Regions from separate parts of the Homo sapiens genome. Here region 1 is linked to region 2. The links come from fine-mapping of genetic effects on gene expression. A gene starts in region 2. The other region holds a variant in brackets. All regions are shown on one strand. Distances are from middle to middle.

What was found. PIP is the estimated chance that this variant, and not a neighbour inherited with it, causes the effect. A credible set is the group of variants that fine-mapping cannot tell apart.
Region 1: its variant is the best candidate, but not a certain one, in a credible set for the expression of FAM178B in aorta (GTEx, PIP 0.51).

What each region holds. Positions count from the first base shown.
Region 1 is chr2:96,902,170-96,910,496 of GRCh38, reverse strand. FAM178B (family with sequence similarity 178 member B) reads left to right here. Exons shown (of 17, transcript NM_001122646.3): 13 at 7,790-7,877. Among named protein-coding and RNA genes, the nearest start is that of SEMA4C, 36 kb to the right of the region's middle. RefSeq lists enhancers at 3,230-3,825, 6,310-6,809. The variant C/T (reference allele first, on the strand shown) is at 3,462.
Region 2 is chr2:96,982,329-96,990,655 of GRCh38, reverse strand. It overlaps FAM178B (family with sequence similarity 178 member B), which reads left to right and starts at 4,076. Exons shown (of 17, transcript NM_001122646.3): 1 at 4,076-4,415. The coding sequence starts at 4,343. RefSeq lists enhancers at 3,998-4,518, 4,519-5,039.

The DNA.
Region 1 (8,327 bases), 80 kb after region 2:
GCAGACGGAACAACACTACACAATTCGTATTTTGCTTTTGCCGTCTTTGTCAAGGAGAACAGTTTTTCATTTGGAATCAAATATTGGTCGTCGAAGGGGGTTAAAGCCTAAGAGAGTGTGGGAGGCTGCATGACCAACCTCACTGTGCAGAGGAGGCCGTCTCCCCGGTGGGACGGCGTCTCACTGCTCCTGGGAGACATGAAGTTGGGGCCGTGGCTCCATGGGGACTTTTGGAGGCGGAGGGCTTCCAGGAGATGGGGGCAATGGTGCTTGATGTGCTCCTCCAGGTTATTCTCTAGGGGATTCCGGCTTGGGAGCACATACGTAGAAAAGGAAACACTGCTTTCTAGGAGTCCTAACAAGAAATCATACCAGGCAAGCCTCACTTTTCCACAGGTCAACCAGAATCATACTCCAGAGAGGACTGTGCAGTGCCTGTATGTAGGTTTCCTGGGCATTTGGTAGAGGCTGTCACCATAGGCTGGGTTCGGCATGAAGGAATGCGGGTCAAATGATGACAGAATGAAGTGGGCTCATTATCAAAAGGTGCTGCTGGCCATCAGAGTGTGCCCAGAGGGCAGGCCCTGTCACCACCCCGAGTTCTGTCTCCACTCACAGGTTGGCCAGGGCAGGCCCAGTGTTTTGGATGAGGCTATTAATGGAACAATGGTCAGATTCACAGATGACATGAATACAACTGACAGCAGACCGAAGATCCCAGAAGATCTCAACAGACTGTAATGATGGACTGAGTTGAAAAGGGAGGCCCAGCTGCACAATTAAGAACAGGATCTGGGAAATGGGATTTGACAGCAAGACGTGTGAAAAAAAAAGACTTTGGGCTCAATCTGTTAACTGCGTTGTGTTGTGGGGCTGCCAAGAAAATGAGCATCAGCCTCAACTCCGAGTGTCGCACTTGAAAGGGAACATTGACAACCCCCAGGGCCGTCAGAGGACCCAAACCAAAATGGCAAAAAAAGATACAAAAAGATGGGAATGAGGGGGCTGTGGCACCTGCAGGAAGGGGCAGCCACGGGAATGTGGCAACTTCTTCCAAGCGTAGAGGACCTAGGTTGGCGGAGAGCTCCCTCCTGGAGGCCCCAGAGGACAGGATCCAGAAGCTTTGAGTGGAAGTCCCAGAAGGGCAGGTTTTGGCAAAATATGGGAACGATTTCCTTTGGTTAGTCCGGTAAATGAATTTGGGCTGTCTTGGCAGATACTGCACTTCCTTTGCTGAAGTGAACACTTATTGGGGGTGTGGCAAAGAGAATTAAAATGGATAACTATGCAGAAGCTAGATTAGGTGACTTCAAGGTGTTTTCTTTTTTCTTTTTTCTTTTTTTTTTTTTTTTTTGAGACAGAGTCTTGATCTGTCGCCCAGGCTGGAGGGCGGTGGCGTGATGTCGGCTCACTGCAACCTCTGCCTCCCAGGTTCAAGTGATTCTCCTGCCTCAGCCTCCCAAGTAGCAGGCATTACAGGTACCTGTCACCACACCCGGCTAATTTTTGTATTTTTAGTAGAGACGGGGTTTCACCATGTTGGCCAGACTGGTCTCGAACTGACCTCAGGTGATCCTCCCACCTCAGCCTCCCAAAGTGCTGGGGTTACAGGCGAGAGCCACTGCGCCCAGCAGACTTCAAGGTGTTTTCTAAGCCTGAGGTTCTGTGATTTTTATCATACAAAGAGGGAGATGAGAATGGAAGTTGGTATGATTGTTCATGTGTACCTTTTAATTTACTTATAATACGTGTGAATGGAAGGACCCATATCATAGGTGGACACTTCGTGCCCTTTGCAAAAGAGATCATCCATGTACCACCTGACCATGGGACAGAATGTCTGCCGCTCCCCAGAAGCCCCATCAGGCCCCTGCCAGGCGTTCCCTCCTGCAGAGGTAATCACTTTCACAGCTTCCATCACATAGATTCATTTTACCTGTTTTGTTGGTTGGTTGGTTTTTGAGAGATGGGGTCTCCCTATGTTGCCCAGGATGGCCTCGAACTCCTGACCTCAAATGAGCCTCCTGCCTCAGTTTCCCAAAGTGCTGGGATTACAGGTGTGAGCCACTGTGCCTAGCCCAATTTTGCCTGTTTTTAAACATTTATATAAATGGGACCATGCAGAGCATTCTCCCTTGGGTCTGGCTTCCTTGGCTCAACACCTGGTTTGTGGGGCCTCTCCACGTCAATGTGCGTGGTTATATATAGACGGGTTCCTCATGTTGCCCTGTGGTGGTCCACTCGTCTGGGTCTGTGGCCGACTGTGTCCCGCCGTCTATTCCCGTCCACACTCTGTGTGCTCAGACTGGTCTGTGGATGACCAGGCAGTCTGGTGGCTGTGGGCTTGCAGACCCCCGGGAGGGACAACCAGCTTCTAAGCCCACCCCCTTGTTCTTCCCACCTGGCAAGTGCGCAATGAAGAGTCCAGGGAAGGAGTGCCGAGCAGGTGGCTGACAGGCAGCCTGATGGACAAGAGGCCCGGGGTGCGAGCCAGGCGGACGCCCTGAGGCAGCATGTCAGGCAGCATTGCCACGGTGGAACAGGCCACTGCCGTTGCTTCCTGAGCTGCCCTGGAGACTGGAAAAGGCAGCTCATGCCTTTGGCCAGGTGCCTGACAGCCTTTTAGGGCAGTTCAGTCTTGGCAGGGCCCAGTTCTCCTCCCAGGGAGTGAAGACAAGGGGCTCCAGAGGGGCTGTGCTGGCCTATGTCACTGCCCGACATCCCAGCAGCCCACGTGGTTGGTGCCTTTGCCTTCCTGGGTGCCCCTTGCGGAGGCTAGGAAGCAGAGCGCTGGCATTCCACTTCTGGCCCTGCTGCGGGTTTGGAAAAGTCATTTGTGAATGTCTCAGTGCCTTCGACTCCTCTGAGTGCTAATCCAGTGTCCTGGTCTTGTGGAGGCCCTTGGTGGGTGGAGGGGGACAGGGCGGAGGCAGAAGCTGGCCTGGCCTAGCCTGGCCTGGCTGGTGCACGCCAGGGCTGGAGCCTGTTGCCTTATATGACAGTGGCTGGGATGGCCCCATGGCTTCTGCCTCCTCCTCTGAACCTGGTTGGAGTTCCGGGGAGGCCTTGCCAGGTGGGGTCAGGCCTCTTCTATGGGAGGGAGAGCCCACAGCCAGCCTCAGCCAGCCCCTCTGCTTGTGCCCTGCACAGTCTGGGTGGTGGTGGGGTGAGGCTTTTCTTTTTCTTCTCCATGGAATAAGTTCTCAGTCTGTAAAATAAAAAAATGGTCTCGCCCCGCCCCCTGCCCCCTCCTTGCTGTGTCCCAGTGGGAACTAAGAATGCAGGACGGGGTTTAAAAGGCGGGGAGGGCCATCAGGATGAAAGGCAGTGGGCAGGCGGGGACAGCAAGGGGGCTCGCCACTCACATGTGGGTTTCTTTTCATCCATGCACCCTCTTGGTGCTTCTTGTGGTGCTTTTCTTCATTTCTGGATAACAGCCCCATCCTGACCCACCCTGCCCG[C/T]CTCTTCCCTTCTGGAACCACCCCTGGCACTGCTTTGCCGGCCTGCCTGCTCCCCTCACCCCCGGGCCGGGCAGGCCCTCCTCGCCCGCTGTGAGTAAACGAGTAAACGAGCTCCCGCGCAGGCCTCAAGTTTTGGATTAATGAAGCCCAGATGCAGACTTCTGACTGGCTTTGAGTTCACTGTGGAGCAGCTCAGAGGGGCCATTGACCTCCCACTGTGTTCCCGGCCCAGCTGCTGCTGGGGCTCCCAAACAGCTGGAAAGCTGGCCCTGTCTGACAGGGAGGCGAAGGCCTGTGCGTGGGGGAGAACCTGAAGCTTGGGGCTCTGGGTGTGGGGCCACGGGGTGGCCTGCACCCACGGGGGTCTGTTGTAGGGGCCGTAGAGAGGGGATAAGGGGCTTCTGTTAGTTATCCCATGGTTCAGTCCGGGTGGGCGCTGCCTTTCCTCAGTGCTCAGTGTGGGGGAAGTGGGAAGTGTTGAGTGAGTACACAGTGGTGCTGCACAGGAGGGGGTTGAGGCTGAAGGGGCCCAGGGTCAGGGCACCCCCACGATGGTTCACATCAGGCCTTCACAGTCAGGCATGGAGGGGAATGGTTGGTCCCTCTCAGGGTTGCTAGACACGATGCACATATCACATGGGATAAACTTATGCCAGAAAAATTATTTTCGGTCGGGCTTGGTGGTACATGCCTGTGATCCCAGCTACTTGGGAGGCTGAGGCAGGAGAATCGCTTGAACCCAGGAGGCGGAGCTTGCAGTGAGCTGAGATGCCGCCACTGCACTCCAGCCTGGGAAACAGAGCAAGACTCCTGCTCAAAAAAAAAAAAAAAGAAAGAAAAAGAAAAAGTATTGGCTGGGCGCGGTGGCTCACACCAGTAATCCCAGCACTTTGGGAGGCTGAGGTGGGCAGAACACTCAGGCGGATCACCTGAGGTAGGGAGTTCAAGACCAGCCTGACCAACATGGAGAAACCCCGTCTCTACTAAAAATAAAAAAATTAGCTGGGCGTGGTAGCACATGCCTGAATCCCAGCTACTCCGGAGGCTGAGGCAGGAGAATCGCTTGAACCGAGGAGGCAGAGGTTGCGGTGAGCCGATATCGCACCATTGCATGCCAGTCTGGGCAACAAGAGAGAAACTCCATCTCAAAAAAAAAAAAAAAAAAAAAAAAAAAATATATATATATATATATATATATATATATATATATATATATACACACATATATGTATATTTTTGTGTATATATATTTTGTATTTTTAGTAGAGACGAGTTTTCTCCATGTTGGTCAGGCTGGTCTTGAACTCCCAACCTCAGGTGATCCGCCCACCTCGGCTTCCCAAAGTGCTGGGATTACAGGCATGAGCCACCGCACCCGACTTAACTGGGCATCTTATATTTTAATCTGCTAAATCTAGCAATCCTATCTCCCTTCCAGCTGAACTTTTTTTTTCTTTTTCTTTTTCTTTTTTTTTTTTTGAGATGGAGTCTCGCTCTGTCGCCCAGGCTTGAGTACAGTGGTGTGATCTCTGCTCACTGCAACCTCTGCCTCCCGGGTTCAAGCAATTCCCTGCCTCAGCCTCCCGAGTAGCTAGGATTACAGGTGTGTGCCACCACGCCCAGCTAATTTTTGTATTTTTAGTAGAGATGGGGTTTCAGCATGTTGGCCCAGCTGGTCTTGAATTCCTGACCTCAAATGATCCACCCGCTTCAGCCTCCCAAAGTGTTGGGATTACAGGCGTGAGCTACTGTGCCTGGCCTGAATTTTTTTCTTAATTGTTTTATTGAACTACAATATACAAACAATAGAGCAAAGACAGTTAAGTGTATGGCTCAGTGCATTTTCACAAGTCCAATGCACGTGAAGCCAGCACCCAGGTCAAGAAATGAAACATGATCAGAACCTGCCCCCCACCCCCACCCCAGGGTCATGAGTATCCAGACTTCCAACAGCTGAAGTTTGCCATTTGCATTTTTTTTTTAAGAGTTGGGGTTGCCTGTAATCCCAGCACTATGGGAGGCTGAGGTGGGTAGATCATGAGGTCAGGAGTTCAAGACCAGCCTGGCCAAGATGTTGAAACCTGTCTCTACTGAAAATATAAAAATTAGCTGGGCGTAATGGCAGGCGCCTGTAATCCCAGCTACTTGGGAGGCTGAGGCAGGAGAATCGCTTAAACCCGGGCATAAAAGAGTTGGGGTCTTGCTGTGTTGCCCAAGGTAGCCACAAACTCCTAGGCTCAGGCAGTCCTCCCACCTCAACATCCTGAGTAGCAGGGACTGCAGGCGTGGAGTACTGTAGCTGGCATGCCCATGTTTGTACCTCATATAAATGAGACCCTGTTGGCTGGGCACAATGGCTCATGCCTGTAATTCCAACACTTTGGGAGGCCAGGGCAGTTGGATCACCTGAGGTCAGGAGTTTGAGACCAGCCTGGCTGACATGGTGAAACCCCGTCTCTGCTAAAAATACAAAAAAAAAAAAAAAAAAAAAAAATAGCCAGGCATGGTGGCGCGTGCGTGACTGTAGTCCCAGCTACTTGGGAGACTGAGGTAGGAGAAATGCTTGAACCCGGGAGGCAGAGGTTACAGTGAGCCGAGATCATGCCATTGCACTCCAGCCTGGGTGACAGAACGAGACTCTGTCTCAAACAAAACAAAACAAAAAATGAGACCATGCAGATACATTTTTTGTGTCTGGCTGCTTTCCTACCACACTGGAGGTCGTTCATGTTGTTGGAGGTACTTGTGGTTCATTCATAATCACAACACCCCCCCGTAGGACTGAGCTGTATGGATACAGCCTGATCTGTCTGTCCACTGTGCTGTTGCTGCTGCTGCTGCTGCTGTGCAAACCTTCTAGTGCCTCTCCTTTTTTTGCAACTTTGTACCTAGGAGTAGGATTGCTGGGCATGGGGTGGGCATCTACACATCTTTAGTAGATCTTGCCAGTTTTGGGCAGTGGCGCACCCATCAATATCCTGCCAGCTGTGTGTGAGTGCCCATAACCCTGCGCCCCCACCAGCACCTGGCATGGCCCCAGCTCGTGTTGGCTCTTCTGGGGTGCGGTGCTGCTGCTGCTTGTTCTGCTTTTTGAAAAATCCAAGAGTCCGCTGCTTTGTCGAGTCCTCTGACTTTCTTGACTCTTTCCTAAGAAAATCTAAAAGTGCCCCAGGATTTTAGACCCTAGATTAATGCCTCTGTGATCCCAGCCTCACCGGAGCTTTGAGGAAGCCATTCCTGCCTCAGTTCCCGTTCACCCAGGGAGCCTCTCTGCATGCAAGGCTGGGGTGAGAGGTCCAGGGGCCAGGGGTTCCAGGCACAGCTGTCTCTGGGCATTCTCAGGGCTCTGTTTCAGCCTCTTTGCCTCCCTGTGGCTTCCTCTTCCTGATTCTCCCTCCAGGAGGCAGGATGGCCACCAGTGGCTGTAGTGGCGGCCCTGCTGGAAAGGCCTGCATGCCTGCACTTTGCTGATAGTTCAGCCACAGCCCGAGGCCACCTCTCAGTGACTGGGTCAGGTGCCTGTCCTGGGAGCCTGGCAGGAGATGGATTTCCCAAAGGAAAGCCCAGTGGATACTGGGTGAAAAGAAAACCATGAAGTTTGGCCTGCTGAGGCCAAGTCAGTCCCCCAGCCTCCCCCACCCTGCAGAGGTGGAGCCACAAAGGAAAGAAGAGGCAGAGGCGTATTGAAAAGCAGTTCAGCCGGGCGCGGTGGCTCACGCCTGTAATCCCAGCACTTTGGGAGGCTGAAGCGAGCGGATCACGAGGTCAGGAGATCGAGACTATCCTGGCTAACATGGTGAAACCCTGTCTCTACTAAAAATACAAAAAATCAGCCGTGCATGGTGGCGGGCGCCTGTAGTCCCAGCTACTCAGGAGGCTGAGGCAGGAGAATGGTGTGAACCCGGGAGGCGGAGCTTGCAGTGAGCCGAGATTGTGCCACTGCACTCCAGCCTGGGCGACAGAGCGAGACTCCGTCTCAAAAAAAATAAAATAAAATAAAATAAGCAGTTCAGTGCTGCTGCCTCTATGGATCCATGGATATGTATCGGCAGAGGGGATAAAAAACTAAGAAAAGCCCAGCTCTGTGGGCCTCTGAAATTACCAGGGACTTGAGTTTTTGTGTGGATTTATTATTTAATTTTCTGATCATGAGAGTTTCATTCCTCCTAGAATACATAATGCTGTAAGCCAATGGAGAAAGCCCTTTGCTGGGGTACCCCAGATGGAGGGTGGCTCCCCCAAAGTCCCCTCTCCATGGGTATCCTGCCCCCTGCTCGGGCTCCCCGACTTCCAGCACACCCTCTCTCAGGCTGTCGCTTTTCCCCCAGGCGGCTTCGAAGCCAGCTCAGCCTTGTGGTCATTGCTCGAATGCTGGGCCAGCAGGAGATGCTCCCTCTCTGGCAAGAGAAGACCCAGGTGAGTGTTTGCTTCAGGCCTGGGCAGGAAGGCCATGGCCTGCGGGCTCTGGAGGCTTTCCCCAAAGGCCAGGAACATCAGGCCCCAGAGCTAAGCTGGCTCTGAACTCTCTACTCATGTTCTTTCATCAAGAATTACCGCTTGCATGCCAGCCATGTGCTAGGCGCTGAGGACAGAGCAGTGAGCTGAGAGCCTGTCTTTTTAAAAAATTGTAGTTGCTGGGCACGGTGGCTCACGCCTGTAATCCCAGCACTTTGGGAGGCTGAGGCGGGCAGATCATGAGGTCAGGAGATCAAGACCATCCTGGCTAACACGGTGAAACCCGTCTCCACTAAAAATACAAAAAATTAGCCAGGTGTGGTGGCGGGTGCCTGTAGTCCCAGCTACTCGGGAGGCTGAGGCAGGAGAATGGCGTGAACCTGGGAGGTGGAGCTTGCAGTGAGCCAAGAT
Region 2 (8,327 bases):
CTGCACACACACAAACTGAAAGGGAGTGGGCAACTGAACAGGGATAATACCAAGACCCTAATGATGGTGGACCCAAAATTCAAATTTTTTTTTTTGAGATGGAGTCTTGCTCTGTCGCCCAAGCTGGAATGCAGTGGCACGATCTCGGCTCACTTTAAGCTCCGCCTCCCGGGTTCACGCCATTCTCCTGCCTCAGACTCCCAAGTAGCTGGGACTACAGGCGCCCGCCACCACGCCTGGCTAATTTTTTTGTATTTTTAGTAGAGACAGGGTTTCACCGTGTTAGCCAGGATGGTCTCGATCTCGTGACCTCGTGATCTGCCCACCTCAGCCTCCCAAAGTGCTGGGATTACAGGCGTGAGCCACCGTGCCCGGCCCCAAAATTCAAAAATTTTAATACCTCAAGGTCATCAATGCAAATTAATCAAAGGGGGTTACAGACACCTAGGAAGGGGCTCTCTAACGCTTTGGTCACATGAACCCTTAAGGGAACAGGCTTAGCTACTACTGTAAAAGCACACACTACAGCGAGACCACTTTACTCTATCAATAACCCAGAAAGGAAAATAAGGCCACTTCCATTACTGATGCCAGTACAGAGGAGAGGAAGGTACCCAGGGGAAGACAGACAGTTAGACTTTCCCTAAGTTCCACCAGTATAAAGATTTAAGCACTTACTGATCTCTACAGATACTTTCATGGGATAGATTGAAGCCTACTCCACCAAAACAGAAAAGGCACAAGTGCCTCTTAAAAGAAATCATTCCCCGATTTGGGCTACCTATGTCACTCCAAAGCGACAATGGCCCCTCCTTTGTTTCCAAAATAACCCAGCAAGTGCTACCACTCTAGGAGTAAGTGATCATTTACATGCTTCCTGGAGACCTCCATCCTCAGGAAAGCTAGAAAAAGCTACTTGTAAAGAAAACTCTGGCGAAGCTCTGGCAAGAGACTTCTGAGTCCTTATTAAAGTGATTGCCTCTAGCGTTCCTCCAAGTAAGAGCGGCTCCCAAGACCAATCTGCAACCCAGCACCTTTGAAATATTATATGGTCCTTTTGAGTCTTCACAGGGGTGCCTTGTAAAGGCATTAGAAAAATATACCAATGTAGATGCTGTCTCTGAGGCAGGTCAAATTCTTCTGGGGACTCATTTTATTAGTCAATCTGCTCCAGATATTAAGAGAAAGTTACAAAAACTGGCTGTAAGTCCCCAGGCACCAATGAATGAGCTAATTAATGTAGCCTTTGAAGTCTTCTATAATGAGACAGAGTAGAAGAGGCTAAAAAGTGAAAGAGGGAAGAGGCAAGAGACATAAACCAGGCCTCCGATTATTGGCCCTTGCTATCAGAGAGAACAAGCCAGTCCAGACCAAGCCCCAATCTGGGGACACCTGCTACACTTAAAACCAGGACACTGGCCCCAAAACTGCCAGACCAAGGGACAAAATGCCCAAAAGTCCGCTCCACCTAGACCATATCCACAATGCAGAGATGCCAGTCACCGGAAGCAGGACTGCCCCCAACTCCGTAGGGAGACAGGGGCTTCCAATTCCTTGATGGCCCTGACTAAAGACTGAGGAGACCCAAGGCTAACACTGGCTGTCATTCAGTCCCCATTACCACAGAGGAATCCAGTGACCCTGCACGTGGCAGGTGTAGCTAATTTTCTATTACATACAGGGACCAGCCTGTCAGTCCTTACATTCTGCCGTCGACCCTAGTAGGCCAAATAGGCCAAACACTGCACTGCCACGGGAATTGATGAAAAACCCGGACCAGATACTTTACCCAACCTTTTTACCTTTTTTTTTTTTTTTTTTTGAGATGGAATCTCACTCTGTTGCCCAGGCTGGAGTGCAGTGGCACCATCTCGGCTCACTGCAAGCTCCGCCTCCTGGGTTCATGCCATTCTCCTGCCTCAGCCTCCTGAGTAGCTGGGACTACAGGCGCCCACCACCACGCCCGGCTAATTTTTTGTATTTTTAGTAGAGACGGGGTTTCATCATGTTGGCCAGGATGGTCTTGATCTCCTGACCTCGTGATCCGCCTGCCTCGGCCTCCCAAAGTGCTGGGATTACAGGCGTGAGCCACCGTGCCCAGCCACCCAACCTTTAATTTGCAGACTCAAGGACGTGAATGCCTAACTCCCTTGTTGCTACCCTCGTTGGGGGCTTCTTTAAAACCAATGAAACCAACTGAACCCCTTCTCATAGGAGCACTCTCAAAAGCCCAGCTGACCACCATAACACACCATAGTCCAGAGAATCCAGGACATTGCCAGCTGGGTGCATCTCTCTAGGATAAAAACTGTTTCCCTTACGTTTCCACAGGACTCTACATCAACAACTAAAAATTAAAAATCCTTTTGTAAGCCTATAGAAGACCTAACATTCATTTTCAAGAAAAGATGCCAACACCCCAAATAAAGAGATTAATATTACTTTAACATAAGGTAGTCCCATCTCAGGTCTCCTATTTGTAGGAGCTCTTTTTGTTCTTCTGCTTGCTGAATAATGATGTGATGCTTCATTCTGCTACCTTTCATGGGACCTACAATAGCCATCTTATTACTACTGACCTTTGGTCCTTGCTTGTTTAAGCTCCTTTAAAGTCTGTGTCTTCTAGGTTACAACAATTCCTAGATTGATAGTTATGCAAGGATTTCAACTTATCCCAGTGGAGGATATGACCCCTATCACTTTAAATCAGGCAAGAAGAGACTTTCGGGCCCTGGTCCTGTCTCAGCACGAAGCAGCTCCAGAAAAAATGACCCAGCCCTCCACATTTCATAAGAACATGGACCCAAAGTCTCTGAGGGGGAAAATGAGGTCGGTTAGATACAGTGGTCATAGCCTCCTTTAAAGGGGAATGAACTTGCCAGATTGATGTAGAGAACAAACCGCCCACTGGTGCATAAACTGCATCAGGCTCCTAGTTAGAACATCCTGCAGCGAAGAGGATGAACAGCAGAAGGGAAAATCCCCAAATTCACACAAGTGCAGAAACCCATGATTAGAGTGTCCTTGGAATGACCTATGCTCATTTTAATGCTAAAAAACACACCCCTGGGTGAGGAATTAAAATGCTAATGAGACATGTGATGTGGTGTACTAGCACGCACATGCACATCTGGGAGACCCCGTAACATGCTTAACAGTAATGCCCATTCCCGCTCCTTTATGAATAATTATGTAAATCTCCCATAAAGGGAAGCTCATCACTGCCAAACAGACACAGCTATCTCACACGTGTGTGTGTGTGTGTGTGTGTGTTAGAGATGGGGGCTTGCTCTTTCGCCAGGCTGGAGTACAGTGCCACGATCTCGGCTCACTGCAACCTCTGCCTACGCCTCCCAGGCTCAAGTGATCCTCTCACCTCAGCCTCTGAAGTAGTTGGGGCTACAGGCACTGCACCACTATGCCCGGCTTTTTTTTTTTTTTTTTTTTTTTTTTTTTTTTTTTTTTTTTTTTTTTTTTGAGACGGCGTCTTGCTCTGCTGCCCAGGCTGGAGTGCGGTGGCGCGATCTCGGCTCATTGCAACCTCCACCTCCCTGGTTCAAGCAATTCCCCTGCCTCAGCCTCCCGCGCAACTGGGATTACAGGCGCACGCCAGCCACCAAGCCCGGTTAATGTTTTTTAATTTTTAGTAGAGACAGGGCTTCACCATGTTGGCCAGACTGGTCTGGAACTCCTGACCTCAGGCAATTCGCCCGCCTCGGCCTCCCAAAGTGCTGGGATTACAGGCGTGAGCCACCGCGCCCTGCCCACGCCAGGCTAATTTTTGTATTTTTAGTAGAGACGGGGTTTCGCCATGTCGCCCAGGCAGGTCTCTCACTCCTGGGCTCAAGCAATCGTCCCGTCTCAGCCTCCCAAAGTGCTGGGATTATAGGCATGAGACACCGCGCCAGGCCACTGTCTCACTGTCTTGGTAAATGCAAGCTACTACAAGTGCGCGTGACCCAGGACTGCCTGGGGGCAGGAGCTTCCGCCAGCCAATTCCCGCGCACGTGGATGCGCACGTGGAGGGCGAGCAGGAAGAGGGCGCGCACGTGGAGGGCTAACAGGAAGAGGGTGCGCACTTGGCCGGCGAGCTCCCCAGCTGGCGGCGGCGGCGGCTGTGAGCTGGCCGCTTGGTTTGGAGTCGGAACTCAATCCCCAGAACTGGATCTTTAGGTTCCACGTTGGCGGCCCTGGATCTAGGGACGCAACTCTTGGGGTCCTCCCACTGCGCCGCCTGGGGAGCCTGCTCCTGCTTCCTTTCCCGGCTAGCTGGCCCCGTCCTCTGAGGCCGTGCGAATTCCCGCCACCCTCCCTCACCCCGGAGCCCTGCCCTTCCCGCCCTATGTGGCCAAGGCTTCCAGGTGCGGGCCTCGCTCCACAACTCAGGAGGCAGGATCAGCGGCTCCATTTTACAGGTAAGGAAACTGAGGCCGAGGAACCGCAGGGGCGCGTGGTTAGCGCTCAGAGAGCACTCGACTTCCCTGGGACTCCTGGCTGGTCCAGGCCTTGCAGGTCAGCCCCGGTGCGGCCGCCGGGCTACTCTGGCGCTTTTCAGGTTCCTGCGACCCCGCGTGGTTCGGGTTCCGACGTGAGCCGGGCCCTCCTCTCCACAGGCCACTGCGCGGCCGGCCTTGGTGGGGTGGAACCTTAGATTGGTTTGAGAACTGGTTTATGTTTTGGTTGATGTGGCATGTTTTGTTTTGATTTTTAATGTTCCCCAGGGTGCAAAGGGTAGCTGGTGTTTTCTTTCCAGAAAGGCTTTCTATTCCCAGCCCCTGCCCGGTTTGATGGATGTGGAGTTTATGATGCTGGAGACCGTTTTCTTTGTGGGTAGAACGCATCTCCTTTCATCTTTCAAATTGTGAGCTCAGTCCTTGCTGACAGGAGCCGCTGCTCTCGCCAGCATTCCCAAGCTATTAAATATTTGTTTAAAAGGATGGATATAAAACATGATGTTAGGAATAAGGCGTCTTGAAAAAGCAGTATTCGCAGAAACAGCACCATTGTAATATTCTGAATTCATCTTGGCTCTTTTGACATCAGGGCCCAAAGCACTTGGGATTCCGTAATTATTTGGCCTCATGCTACACTTTAAGACAGATTATTTTATTTTTCTTGTAGTCAGGAAAGTAAAAGAACAAAAAAACTGAGATGACATGTTGAAATCTCACTGCGAGGACGCGAGGGAGGATGAGGGAAGCGGGGAGGGCGGCTGAACGCTAAAGGCTGGGGCTGGGGTTTGCAGGATTCGGGGAGACAAGAGCCCAGGCAGAGGGATGTGCTGGGCAGAGGGGGCGCCATCCATGGGCTGCATTGTAGAGTGAGCATGGCCAAGTCAAGGAGCTGAACAAGACGACTTCAGTCCTGAACCTGGAAAGAATGTGAGATGGAGGAGAAACAGGTCCTGGCTGGCGGGTATTGGGCCCCAGGAGGGAAAGAGATAACAAAGTTAAGTTTGGAGACTAACGCTGTCTCCTGTTTGACTGGGGGGCCTTCATATCCCCTCCCACGCTGTCAGGACACGTACTGTAGGCACTGGAGCAGGTCACACCAACTAGAATGATCGGTTTCCATCCATTCCGGGATGCATTTTTGTTCACATTTTAGCAGCTCTGAAGTTGGGCTGGGTCCCACAGTTTGTGTCTTTCTTTGTGTCATCGTTCACTTGGCAGCTTTTTGTCGGTCTTAGTGGCACAGAAAGTCACAGTGCCTTAAACCCAGCAGCATCTTAGCTGTGATGAAGGAGTCAGCCATGGCCTGAGTCCAGTAACTGCAGGATCCAGAGTTGGAGACGCAGGCAGAGAAGATGACCCACCTCAGCCTGCACCCTTTTGTTGTTTATGTCTTTGTCTTTGAAAGTGCTTGTTTCAAGGCATGTGAGGGAGGGGATTGGCAAAAGCAAAAACCTGGAAACAACAGATAGACAAATGAAAAATGTGTTACTTTGTGGTTGGGAGAGGGAAGAAACAGCTGGTAGCTGCATCTCCCTTCCAGGTAAAATTGGAATGCCATATAATCACTGGTAGATAGCACCTTTGAGTGAAAGGCATTTTGCAGCAGCTAGAGTCAGCTGCCCACTGAGCAGGCAGCCCTGGCCCAAGAGCCTCATAAGCAGCCAGCCAGTCTGAATACGCTGATTGGGCCAGTGAGCCCCAGGCTTCATCATCTGCTTGAGTCTTGGTGAGCCCTGGGTCTGTCCTATGACAGAAACTTCCTGCTGCTGTAAGCTCCTCTAGGGCAGAGACTGCATCTTCCTCATCCTTGAGGTCCCAATGCTCAGCATACTGCCTGACACATAGAAGATGCTAAATTGGGGTTTGTTGAGCGGGAACTGTATTGAACAGGTTGGGCAAATTGTCTTCCTGGTGGCGGAGTGAAAGTTTTTATGTACCACTTTGGCAGGGCACAGTGGCTCACACCCGTAATCCCAGCACTTTGGGAGGCTGAAGCGGCAGATCACAAGGTCAGGAGATCGAGACCAGCCTGGCCAACATGGTGAAACCCCATCACTACTAAAAATTAGCTGGGTGTGGTGGCACCTACCTGTAATCTCAGCTTCTCAGGAGGCTGAGGCAGGAGAATCGCTTGAACCCGGGAGGCGGAGGTTGCAGTGAACCGAGATTGTGCCATTACACTCCAGCCTGGGCAATAAGCGAAACTGTCTTGGAAAAAAAAATTCATAGCAGATTTATTCATAATACCTTGAAACAAGAAATAACTCAAATGCTCATCAACAGCGGAATGGATAAATAAGTAGTAGTTATTCATATGATGAAATATTGTATAGTAATAAAGATTACTGAACTGCTGCATGAACTACTGCTACAGGCATATAGCATGCAACAACATACATTTAGCAGTAGTTCGTGGATGATTTTCACATGCATAATGTTGAATAAAATATATGCAGAAGTGCACAAAATTGATGATTTGGCTGGATGCAGTGGCTCACGCCTGTAATCCCAGCGCTTTGTTAGCTGAGGTGACCAGATCACCTGAGCCTAGGAGTTTGAGACCAGCCTGGGCAACACAATGAAACTGTTTCTACAGAAAAATATAAAAATTAGCTGGGCATGGTGGCACATACCTGTAGTCCTAGCTACTCAGAAGGCTGAAGCAGGAGGATTGTTTGATCCCAGGAGGTTGAGGCTGCAGTGAGCTGTTATCACACCATCCGAGTCTGGGCAGCAGAGCGAGACTATGTCTCAAAAATATATATATATGATTTTATGTATGTGAAGTTCAAGAACAGGCAAAATAATCGGTGGTGATAGAGGCAGAGTAGTATAACCTTTGGGGTTATTGACTGGAGGAGGTACTTCTAGAATGTAAGAAATATTCAATATGTTGATCTGGTAATGGTTACCATATGTATGTATATGTGTATATATATGCACACACAGACACACATTTATACTAAATGTACACATATGTACATAAAAATCAATCATGCTGAACACTTAAGATTTGTGCATTTAGAGCCAGGCATGGTGGCTCATGGAATCCCAGCACTTTGGGAGGCTGAGGCAGGAGGATTGTTTGATCCCAGGAGTTCAAGGCTGACCTGGTCAAGGTAGCAAGAACCCTGTCTCTACAAAAATATTTTAAAATTAGCCAGGCATGGTGGTGTGTGCCTGCAGTCCTAGCTACTCGGGAGGCTGAGGCAGGCGGATTGCTTCGGCTCAAGAGCTGAAGGTGGCAGGAAGCTATGATGATGACAGTACACTCCAGTCTATGTGACAGAGAGAGACTATATCTCTAAAATAAAATAAATTAGACTGGGTGCAGTGGCTCACGCCTGTAATCCCAGCACTTTGGGAAGCCAAGGCAGGAGGATTGCTTGAGCCCAGGAGTTCAAGACCATCCTGGGCAACATAGCAAGAACCCTGTCTCTACAAAAAAAAAAAAAAAAAAAAAAAATTAGCTGGGCATGGTGGTGTGAACCTGCACTCCTAGCTACTCAGGAGGTTGAGGCAGGAGGGTTGCTTGGGCCCAGGAGTTCAAGGTTGCAGAGAGCTGTGATCATGACATTGCACTCCAGTCTACATGACAGAGACAGACTCTGTCTCTAACAAAAATAAATAAATAAATTAGGCCAGGTGCGGTGGCTCATGCCTGTAATCCCAGCACTGTGGGAGACTGAGGCGGGTGGATTGCTTGAGCTCAGGAGTTCGAGACCAGCCTGGGTAATATGGTGAAACTCCATCTCTACAAAAAATACAAAAATTAACCAGGCATGGTGGTGCACGCCTGTCGTCCCAGCTACTCGGGAAGCTGAGGTGGGAGGATGACTTGACGCTGGGAGGCAGAAGTTGCAGAGCCAAGAT